Homo sapiens: one gene and its partners. The protein of the gene in region 2 interacts with the protein of the main gene of each other region in a biochemical or structural test. Each region holds a gene or a part of one and is shown on either strand. Other genes may lie near its edges.

Region 1 (3,749 bases), on a different chromosome or scaffold from region 2:
ATGACGGGATTAGTAGAATGAACTCCTGTGTGCCCTTCACCTAGATTGACAGATTGTTAACATTTTACCATATTTGCTTAACCATGCTCTATAGTACACATTTTTTGCTGACCACTTGGGAATAAGCTACAGATACCATGACCATTTTTGCACCCTGAATACTTCGCACCCTGATACAGGAGTGTGTATGTCTTAAGAACAAGAATGTTTTCTTGGAAAATTATATTTTTGTGTGTATAATTAATCATATTCAAGAAATTTAACATTGATTCAATCTAATGTCTAATGTGAAATTCATGTTTTAATTTTAACAATTGTAATGTCTTTCATAGCAATTTCCCCCTCCCCCCAAGGCAGAGGCAGGGATGGTACACGAGTTCTCTGTCCTCTGGGTGCTACATTAAGTCATGTGATGTCTGTTGTTGGTAACATTAACTTGGTTCCCTTGGTGTCCACCAAATTTCTCCATGAAGCTGCCATTTTATTTTTGGAAGTAGCTTCTTCATAGTTGTGGGGAAAGAGGATTTAGGTGAAATTATTAGGAAAAGGCTTATCAATCCTTGGACATTTTACTCAGATATTACCTACTGGCATGTGTAGTCTCCTTTAAAAAAAAAAAAATGTAGGCTGGGCACGGTGGCTCACACCTGTAATCCCAGCACTTTGGGAGGCCAAGGCGGGTGGATCAGTTGAGGTCAGGAGTTCAAGATCAGCCTGGCTAACATGGTGAAACCCCATCTCTACTAAAAATACAAAAATTAGCCAGGCATGGTGGCGGGCGCCTTTAATCCCAGCTACTTGGGAGGCTGAGGCATGAGAATTGCTTGAACCTGGGAGGCAGAAGTTGCAGTGAACTGAGATCCTGCCACTGCACTCTAGTCTGGGCAGCAGAACAAAACTGCCCCCCCCCCCCCCCCCCCCCCCAAAAAAGTATTTGTTCCATCTTAGCAATGTGTTACCTTTCTCTCTCAATGTGATTGACAGACCAGGTCTTTTTTTATAGTTAGGTGTATACTTCCTCTATAGTTTTAATTTTTCCATTTATCTCATACTGCTTCTCTTGAACTACATACTCTGTTGTATGGGCAGCCTTCAGCTCCATTGCTGTAAACAGTGGTGCAGAAATTTTAGAATTTTAATGAGCTTTTGTGAGAGTACTAGGGCAGCTATCAATGCTCATCTTAAGATGGAACTGGCCATTTTGAGAAACATATCTTTGCCTGTATCTATGTATGTTTATAAGCTAAAGTCTTAGATACAGATTGACTTGGTTAAATGTTACTTGCACTCATAATTTTGTTGGATACTGTTATTGCTGAACTTTTCTGGTATGGCAGCCTAATTTTCTGTCTTTTTCCCCTCCTTTGGCTTCTGAAATCCCTCTGATTATGTTGTCTATGTTGAGGCCTTCTCTTCAGCCTTTGGCCCTCTGTTCTGTCTTCCTCTCCCTCTGCAAGTTTTTTTTTTTTTTTTTTTTTTTTTTTTTTTTTTTTTTTTGAGGCGGAGTTTCGCTCTGTCGCCCAGGCTGGAGTGCAGTGGCGCGATCTCGACTCACTGCAAGCTCCGCCTCCCGGGTTCACGCCATTCTCCTGCCTCAGCCTCCCGTGTAGCTGGGACTACAGGTGCGCGCCACCATGCCCGGCTAATTTTTGTATTTATGGTAGAGACGGGGTTTCACCGTGTTAGCCAGGATGGTCTCGATCTCCTGACCTCGTGATCCGCCCGTCTCGGCCTCCCAAAGTGCTGGGATTACAGGCGTGAGCCACCGCGCCCGGCCCTCTGCAAGTTCTTAACTCTGCGTTTCTCCCTTCCCTTTAGAAGCCATCTCCTTTTCAGTCTCTAGTCCCACCCTATGTTCTAGCTCCCCAGCTACAGCTGCCTGCCCACCTTTTCCACTCAGTCTTCTACCATTCCAGATTTCTCTCTTGTCAATCCCCTTTATCACTGTATCTTCCTTGCTGTGGGGTAGGGTTCCACCTTTAAGTGGGGGCACTTAGGTCTTCTCTCTCCCTGGCATGAGTTTTCTGCACTCACTGGTCTGGTTGTTTACATGTGTTGACAGTAACTGCCGCCTTCTGGCCTTTTCTCCGTGCTGCTGCCTCTCTTCTGGAGCACAATTTTTTTTTTTTTTTTTTTAAGACAGAGTCTCACTCTGTCACCCAGGCTGGAGGCTGGAGTGCAGTGGCACAATCTTGGCTCACTGCAACCTCCACTTCCAGGGTTCAAGCGATTCTCATGCCTCAGCCTCTCAGGTAGCTGGGACTACAGGCGTGTGCCACCATGCAAGGCTAATTTTTGTATTTTTAGTAGAGAAGATGTTTCACTATGTTGGCCAGGCTGGTCTCAAACTCCTGACCTCAGGTGATCTACCGCTTTGGCCTCCCAAAGTGCTGGGATTACAAGTGTGAGCCACTGTGCCCGGCCTGGAGCACTCTTTCATGTCCTCTTTGCCTTTCCAAATACTTCCCAATCTTCAAAAACCAAATCAACCTTTTGTGTGAGGGCTTTTCAGCCTGATCCCCCTCTTCTGAGCATTTCCTTTGTTAAGATGCATGTAAGGCTGTGTTTTACTTCCCTGGGACATTGCTCATCGGCTTATTTTCTTAGTTTTCCTCATGCTTTTGGATTGTCTTGTGTGCTGGATTGGAAGGCCAGTCTAGGCCCCCCACCAGGCTGACTCACTTCTCTGCTTACAGTAGGGAATGAGAAAGGGTGGTATCATGATTTGAACTTTACCCAGTCCCACGTGTCATTTGACTTGAGCTGGAAATTTGCAGTGTTTTTTTGGGCTGCTGATGTGCACAGGAAGGAGTTACTGGCCCTGGACAGTATGTCAGGAAAGCTGTCCTGGAAGAAAGGAGGCCAGACACAGGCCACAGAGGGCTGGTGCAAGCTTGGAAATTGGGTGCCTAAGACCTTGCTTTTGTGTTGAAAGGTTTGTCCGATATGTGCCTCGATGCCCTGGGGAGACCCCAACTACCGCAGCGCCAACTTCAGAGAGCACATCCAGCGCCGGCACCGGTTTTCTTATGACACTTTTGTGGTAAGTCTGGAGCCTGGGCTCTGATCCCTCCCCTGGGGGAGTGGCACGGCTACTTCACTCTTCTCAAAAGGGGAAATGGGGATCCCCAGTGTTGAACTTTGTCGCTGTTGTGATGGGCTTCCAGTCTGTATACTGGATACAGTGATAAAGGGGATTGACAAGAGAGAAAAGAAGACTGAGTGGAAGAGGCGGGCAGGCAGCTGTAGCTGGGGAGCTAGATGGGCTTCCAGTCTGTATACTGTAGCTACTATACAGTTTCTATTCATGGGCCAGGCAGGTGGCCAGAGTGACATTTATTTACTTACATGAGATGGAGTCTTGCTCTGTCGCCCAGGCTGGAATGCAGTGGCGTGATCTCAGCTCACTGCAGCCTCCACCTCCCGGGTTCAAGTGATTCTCCTGCCTCAGCCTCCTGAGTAGCTGGGACTACAGGCGCATGCCACCATGCCCCATTACTTTTTGTACTTTCAGTAGAGACAGGCTTTCACTATGTTGGCCAGGCTGGTCTCGAACTCCTGACCTCGTGATCTGCCCACCTTGGCCTCCCAAAGTGTTGGGATTACAGGCGTGAGCCACCACGCCCGGCCCAGAGTGACATTTAAGAAGATGATCTGGGCTGGGCGCAGTGGCTCACACCTGTAATCCCAGCACTTTGGGAGGCCGAGGTGGGCGGATCCTGAGGTCGGGGGTTCGAGACCAGCCTAGC
Region 2 (3,251 bases):
GCGCCTTGCTCTGGCCCAAGCTAAATGCCAAGCTCCGGCCGCCTTTGTGACGCGCTGCCGCCTGCAAGGCTCTGTTCCTGCCCCCGGGTCGCAGAGCCCCAAACCTGCAGTTGCCTGGTCAGTGGATCCCATGTGCAGAGGGCGAGACGGGGCCCTGGCCAGGCGTTGGGAGGCGGGAGGCTCGGCCGGCGCTCCGGGTGAGGATGGCACGCCCCCGCCCTTGCTTCTGCGCACAGGGAAGACATTCGGCCCCGAACTTGGGGCTCAAAACGGTTCAGTTCGCTGCCTTTCCCATCCTGACCCAGCCCCGGGTTTTTTCCGAAGCCGCCGCTGGATAGGTTGCATTACTAGGCTTCCCCCAGCCACTCTCCCTGCCCAAAGCCTTCAGAAGCCGCCCCTCTCCCCTTCACCTGGCCCTTATCCACTGTCCCAGCCTCATTTCTTTCCCCCTCCCTGAATGTCTTCTGCTCCCCTTTCCTTGGGCACTGCCCTTATCCTGGGGTCCTGGCTGCTGCCATTCCTGGCCCTGGAAAACCAGTGCGGAACCCAAAGAAAGGTGGAAGAGCAGCTTTTAGAGAGGTGTTTTTATTCTTTGGGGACAAAGCCGGGTTCTGTGGGTGTAGGATTCTCCAGGTTCTCCAGGCTGTAGGGCCCAGAGGCTTAATCAGAATTTTCAGACAAAACTGGAACCTTTCTTTTTTCCCGTTGGTTTATTTGTAGTCCTTGGGCAAACCAATGTCTTTGTTCGAAAGAGGGAAAATAATCCAAACGTTTTTCTTTTAACTTTTTTTTTAGGTTCAGGGGCACATGTGTAGGCTTGCTATATAGGTAAATTGCATGTCACCAGGGTTTGTTGTACAGATTATTTCATCATCCAGATAAAAAGCATAGTACCAGATAGGTAGTTTTTTGATCCTCACCCTCCTTCCATGCTCCGACCTCAGGTAGGCCCCAGTGTCTGCGGTTCCCTTCTTTGTATCCATGTGTACTCAATGTTTAGCTTCTACTTATAAGTGAGAACATGTGGTATTTGGTTTTCTGTTTCTGAGTGAGTTCATTTAGGATAATGGCTTCCAGCTCCATCCACGTTGCTGCACAGGACATGATCCCATTCTTTTTTATGGCTGCATAGTATTCCATGGTGTATATGTGCCACATTTTCTTTTTTTTTTTTTTAAGGCAGAGTCTCGCTTGGTTGCCCAGGCTGGAGTGCAGTGGCAGGATCTCGGCTCACTGCAACCACCACCTTCCAGGTTCAAGCGATTCTCACGCCTAGGCCTCCCAAGTAGCTGGGATGACAGGTGCTCGCCACCACGCCTGGCTAATTTTCGTATTTTTAGCGGAGACGGAGTTTCTCCATGTTGGCCAGGCTGGTCTCAAACTCCTGACCTCAGGTGAACCACCCGCCTCAGCCTCCCAAAGTGCTGGGATTACAGACATGAGCCACCACTCCCTGCCACCACATTTTCTTTATCCTTTCTACCACTGATGGACATTTAGTTTGATTCCCTGACTTTGCGATTGTGTATAGTGCTGCCGTGAACATTTGTGTATATATGTCTTTATGACAGAATGATTTAGATTCCTTTGGGTATATAACCAATAATGGGATTGCTGAGTCAAATGGTAATTCTGTTTAATCATGTCCCATTTGTCAATTTTTGCTTTCGTTACAATTATTTTTGGGATCTTTGTCATGAAATCTTTTTCCGTTCCTATGTCCAGAATGGTATTGCCTAGGTTATCTTCCAGAGTTTTTATAGTTTGGGGTTTTACATTTAAGTCTTTAATCCATCTTGAGTTGATTTTTGCATATGGTGTAAGGAAGTGGTTCAGTTTCAATCCTCTGCATATGGCTAGCTAGTTATCCCAGTACCACTTACTGAATGGGGAATTCTTTCCCCATTGCGTATTTTTGTCAACTTTGTCAAAGATTAGATGGTTGTAGGTGTGTAGCTTTATTTCTGGGCCCTCTATTCTGTTCCATTGATCTATGTGTCTGCTTTTGTACCAGCACCATGCTTTTGTACCAGTATCATGCAGTTTTGGTTACTGTAGCCCTGTAGTATAGTTTGAAGTTGGGTAATGCGATGCCTCCAGCTTTGTTCTTTTTGCTTAGGATTGCTTTGGCTTTTTGGGCTCTTTTTTGGTTTCAAATAAATTTTAATGCTTTTTTTTTCTGATTCTGTGAAGAATGTTATTGGTAGTTTGATAGGAATAGCATTGAATCTATAAATTGCTTTGGGTAGTATGGCCATTTTAACAATATTGATTCTTCCTATCCATAAGTATGGAATGTTTTTCCATTTGTGTCATCTCTGATTTCTTTCAGCAGTGTTTTGTAATTTTTGTTGTAGAGATCTTTCATCTCCCTGGTTAGCTGTATTCCTAGGTATTTTATTCTTTTTGTGGCAATTGTGAATAGGATTGCATTCTTGATTTGGCTCTCAGCTTGGATGTCGTTGGTGTATAAAAATGCTACCATATTTTGTATATTGATTTTGTCTCCTGAAAGTTAGCTGAAGTTGTTTATCAGATCTAGGAGCTTTTGGGCCAAGATCATGGGGTTTTCTAGATATAGAATCATATCGTCTGCAAACAGAGATACTTCGACTTCCTTTCTTTTTGGTTGCCTTTTATTTCTTTCTCTTGCCTGATTGCTGTGGCGAGGACTTCCAGTACTATGTTGAATAGGACTGAAGTGCCTTGTTCTACTTCTCAAGAGTAATGCTCCAGCTTTTGCTCATTCAGTATGATGTTGGCTGTGGTTTTGTCATAGATGGCTCTTATTATTTTGAGGTATGTTCCTTCGACGCCTGGTTTGTTGAGGGTTTTTAACATGAAGTCAAGTTGAATTTTATCAAAAGCCTTTTCTGTATCTATTGAGATGATACGTGAGTTTTGTTTTTAGTTCTGCCAAACCTTTTCTTTTAAAGCCCAACGAATAAAACCCATCACCTTTCACAAGACCACCACAGCAAGTAGGCAGGAATGCCAGTGTTAAAAGTGAAATCTTTTGAATTTGTAGTACCTTTCCTTTTCCAAATCTAGCTGAAATTTCTCACTTGTTTTCCTTTTGATGAAGCTAACCACCGGCATTTCTCCTAAGAAATGGATATAAAAAAAGTTTGATATGGTTAAAGTAAGAAGTGCTAGCTCCTAGAATATCTCTGGATATTGCTGTCCCTTGTTACAGAGCATGAGCCCTGCCCAAAGACTGGAGTGTAATGGCATAGAAAAGGTCAGGAGCC
Region 3 (3,749 bases), on a different chromosome or scaffold from region 2:
GGGTTCCCTCTTGTGTCTTTCCTGAGTCCTTCCGGGGAGGACGAGGCTGTCTTCCTCCCAGCCAACCTTCTGGGCACCTTTCCTCTCTTCCCAAGCTCTGCCTGGGACCCTTTTCCTTCCCCTCAGCCCGTGGCCGTGCTGTGCAGCCGAGCCCCGGCCTGGTCTCTGGCAGCTCAGGGTTCACTCAGGAGGTGCACCATCCAGTCGTTTCCAGTGTGTTTGCAATTATGCAACAATCGATGCAATTCTAGAAGATTCTTCCCACTCCAGAAAGAAACCCAGGACTCTCCCCCTCGCCTGGCACCCACCCGTCTGCTTTCTGGTCACTGGGTTTCTCTCTGCTGGACGTTGAGCGTGAGTGGACCCCCACGACACGGGTGGGACGTGCTTGCTGTCTGCCCTGCACTGTTTTCCAGGCCTTCCGGTGCGTGGTGGGGCTGCACGCCTCTTCCCGGCCGAACGCCCTTTCCATGGGTGTGCACGCCACGCCGTCTCTTCATCCGTTTACCGACGGGCACCTGAGCTGCTTCCGCTTCTCCTGCCATGAGTGCCTGAGTATGGGGGTCCCCTGAGGCCTCCCCAGGTGGACCATCTTGCCAGCACCTTCCTCCCGTGAACGGGTGAAGTAGGCGGCCCCCCCGGCTCAAATCCAGGGGTCAGTGCCAGGGATGACCCTGGAAATATCTGCTGGGGCGCCTGGTGAGAACTCGGGTGAGGTGGGTAAAGTGAGCGACCTCTTTACTCTGCAGAAAAAGGCTTGTTCACTTTCTGACGGGTCTCAAGCTGAGTCCCGCTTTCTCTCACACGAAGTTTCATGTGGGAGCCACCAGCCAGGTGGTGGCTCTGTGGGAATCCAGTGGTGGCAAAGAGGGCCTGGGGGACAGCAGGAGGGACTTAAGATGCCTGCTTGGCCACCTTTGCCTGAGGCCCTCAGACTTCCTCCTTGCAGAAAGGGCCTTTTCTTGAGGGATGTGGAAATCTCTTGACAGCAAAGAGGACTCTGGCCCTGAATTCAGCTGAGTCGTTTGTGAACCCAGGGCCTGCCCACAGCCCCTCTGTCCAGTGGGGCTCCTGTACCAGCCCTGTGGCCTTGCCAGGGAGAAGGGAAGCTACACCCCCGGGTGCTGTAGCCTTCCTGGGACTGGGGGGCTCTGCCTCAGTTCCAGCTCCTCGCCGCAGCTCAGCTGTCCCCACAGTGCTCCTCACAAGGCCAGATGTGGCTGCCCCAGTATTAAGCTCCTTCTCTGTGTTTGCACTGGGGGCTCTCGCGCCTGGTGCTCCCACTGGCTGGTGGTGCACCCCTCCAAGGGCTGTGTGCGTCTGCAGAGCGGGAGGGTGTGCGAGCCCAAGGAAGCCCCTGCTGCTGGAGCCCGGAGTGCGCACGGGGCTGTGGGACGCTCAGTCTGTCCTCACGATGTGGTGTCCCCAGGGGCAGTGCCAAGAGCCAGGGCCCATGGGTGCCCAGGACCCGAGCCTCCGCCCAGATGGAGCAGGACCCCCTCCTGCCTGCGAAGCTGTCCCAAGCCTGGTGACTGCCACCCAGCCTCAGGATGTGCTGCCACTTGGCTAGCTTTGGCCCTTCCCTGTCCAGTGCATCTGGAGCCCCTGGGGCCTGGCCGTTTCCTTTCCCACGATTGTTTGAGGTTTTATCCCCCAGAGTGTGGAGCCGGGAGAGTTTCCAGAGTCCCCGGGCTGTCCCTGCGCCCCACAGCCCACCCAGGTGTTGTCGCCACGTGAACGTGAACCTGGTAGCCCGAGCTGGGGCCTCCTGCCTATGGGAGCTCCTCTGGCCCACTCGCGGGGACAGCCATAGTGACGGCTCTGCCGCTAGCCAGAAACCACAGGGGCCTACTGTCAGGAGGGACCGGGGCCACCCTTTAGCCAGATGGGGCCCATCCAGCTGGTGGGCCCCGGACATAGGAGTGACCATCTCCAGAGACGGCGACAGCGGTAGGGGGAGCTGCCCCTGTGGACCCCACAAATGCTGGGTCCTAAGAAGGGCCCCGAGCAAGGCCTGCGGTTCGGGAGACCCGAGGGGCGGGCTGGCACTCAGGCCCCTGTGCCCTGCAGGTTCTGCGGGGAGTGTCTCCAGCCCTGCCTGCAGGTGCCATCCCCGCTGTGCCCACTCTGCCGCCTGCCCTTCGACCCCAAGAAGGTGGACAAGGCCACCCACGTGGAGAAGCAGCTCTCATCCTACAAAGCGCCCTGTCGAGGCTGCAACAAAAAGGTACCCGCCTGCTTGGGCCGCCCTGGAGCCGGGGTCACTTGATGGGCAGCCTCAGCCCACGGGTTCTGCAGAGGGTGGGGGCCGGGGCCCTCTCTCTTTCCTGTTGAGTAATCGCGGTCTCTGCTCCTGCACCAGGAAGCCAGCCCCGGCGCCTCCCTCCCCTCCCGTCTTCATCTCTCACTTCCTGTGGTGACGGCTGACGGGGGGGCCAGCCCGGTGGGGGTAGCACTGTCAGAGCCGCCTAGCCCGGGCCAGGGGAACCCACGTGGGTTGTGGCCAGGGTAAGGACCAGGGGGCTGAGCTGAAACCTTCCCAATGCAGCCTTCCCCTGCCAGCCGATACCGGGGACGGCGCTGGGGGCTCCAAGGTCACAAGGGCCGCGGGCACAGTCAAGGACATCTAAGGGCCGAGCACCCTCCAGCTGCCAGGAGGGCCAGAGCCGGGCTGATGGGCACTGCCACACCCACATCAGAGCAGCGTAAGGGCCTGCAGCTTGTCATGGGCCTCATTGGCCCCCATGTCCATCCTGTCCTGGTGCCTGGCCCGTGCCCCGTGGCCCTCCCTGGCACATCCGCTTCAGGGTGGAGAGGCCCCAGCCAGCGCCCCGTTCTTTCAGTGGCTTCCGGAGGACTGAGCAGCTAGAGGTGATTTTGCATTTGCGTTTCCCGACGTTGCCACATCTCAGGTGAATAAGTTCTATGAAGCGCTCACACTAGTACGTGGCCCCTCGGTGGTTTGTCCTCGAGGTCGAAGGTCCAGATGTCCAGGGGCTGCCCTGGACTCCAGAGTGGTGCGGCTGAGCAGGCTGTGGTCTTGGGTGCTTGGGCACCTCCCGTCTCTCCCTGCTCAGAGTTCTTCTCTCCTGGGCAGCCAGAAAGGATCAGAACCGGTCACATGCAGAGCGGCCTCCCGTATCCCACAGCAGCTCCGTTCTCTAATCTGGGTCTTCAGATGCGGCTGTGTCTCCCGGCACCTTGCTGGAATGTGGTGCATCCCTCGGAGTCCAGCAGCCCTTAGGCAGAGCTGGGTGCCGAGCTTGAGTCCAGGAGGGCCTCAGACACCTGCGATCTTGCAGCCTGTTGCCCTGGACAGTGGGTGTGCTGTGGGTGGAGGATGGCGCCCTGCCTCCACGGAAGCATCCCCAGCTTGCCCCTCAGTCACACGAAGCGTCTGTCCCCAGCCTGGGGCATTTCTGAGTGGCCTCCACTTGGCCTCTTCCTTTTTCTGGAGCAAGTATTTGAACTCCTGCAGGCGCCAGAGATCTCCTTACCTGTTTCCCGCTACCCTTCTCCAGCCAGGTTTCTGCCCTCGGCCAGATTGTCCTGCAGTGACTTGCTTTTGGCCATGGAGTAGTGGCTGCTCAGTGCCTGAGATTGTTTTAGCAGCAGAAGGGACCGGGTCCCCCTGCTGCTGGCAACACAGACGCTTGCTTACAGTTCTCTGGTCCTGGACACCTGAGGTCTCGGCCTCCCCAGGACGGCCCTTCCAGATTCTCAGGACCGCCTTGCCCTCCCTGCCCTGT

Evidence for each region.
Region 1: the proteins of XAF1 (region 2) and RNF114 form a complex in vitro, tested with the Homo sapiens proteins (2 studies listed by BioGRID).
Region 3: the proteins of XAF1 (region 2) and RNF166 form a complex in vitro, tested with the Homo sapiens proteins (one study listed by BioGRID).

Annotation. Positions count from the first base shown.
Region 1 is NC_000020.11:49,946,313-49,950,061, forward strand, and holds part of RNF114 (E3 ubiquitin-protein ligase RNF114), read left to right. Parts: intron 1-2,935; coding exon 2,936-3,043; intron 3,044-3,749. UniProt on the Homo sapiens protein: E3 ubiquitin-protein ligase that promotes the ubiquitination of various substrates. In turn, participates in the regulation of many biological processes including cell cycle, apoptosis, osteoclastogenesis as well as innate or adaptive immunity.
Region 2 is NC_000017.11:6,772,966-6,776,216, reverse strand, and holds the end of XAF1 (XIAP-associated factor 1), read right to left. Parts: intron 3,105-3,251; coding exon 3,048-3,104; 3' UTR 570-3,047; downstream 1-569. UniProt on the Homo sapiens protein: Seems to function as a negative regulator of members of the IAP (inhibitor of apoptosis protein) family. Inhibits anti-caspase activity of BIRC4. Induces cleavage and inactivation of BIRC4 independent of caspase activation.
Region 3 is NC_000016.10:88,699,740-88,703,488, reverse strand, and holds part of RNF166 (E3 ubiquitin-protein ligase RNF166), read left to right. Parts: exon of another isoform or gene 1-699; intron 700-2,070; coding exon 2,071-2,227; intron 2,228-2,538; exon of another isoform or gene 2,539-2,548; coding exon of another isoform or gene 2,549-2,869; exon of another isoform or gene 2,870-3,749. UniProt on the Homo sapiens protein: E3 ubiquitin-protein ligase that promotes the ubiquitination of different substrates. In turn, participates in different biological processes including interferon production or autophagy.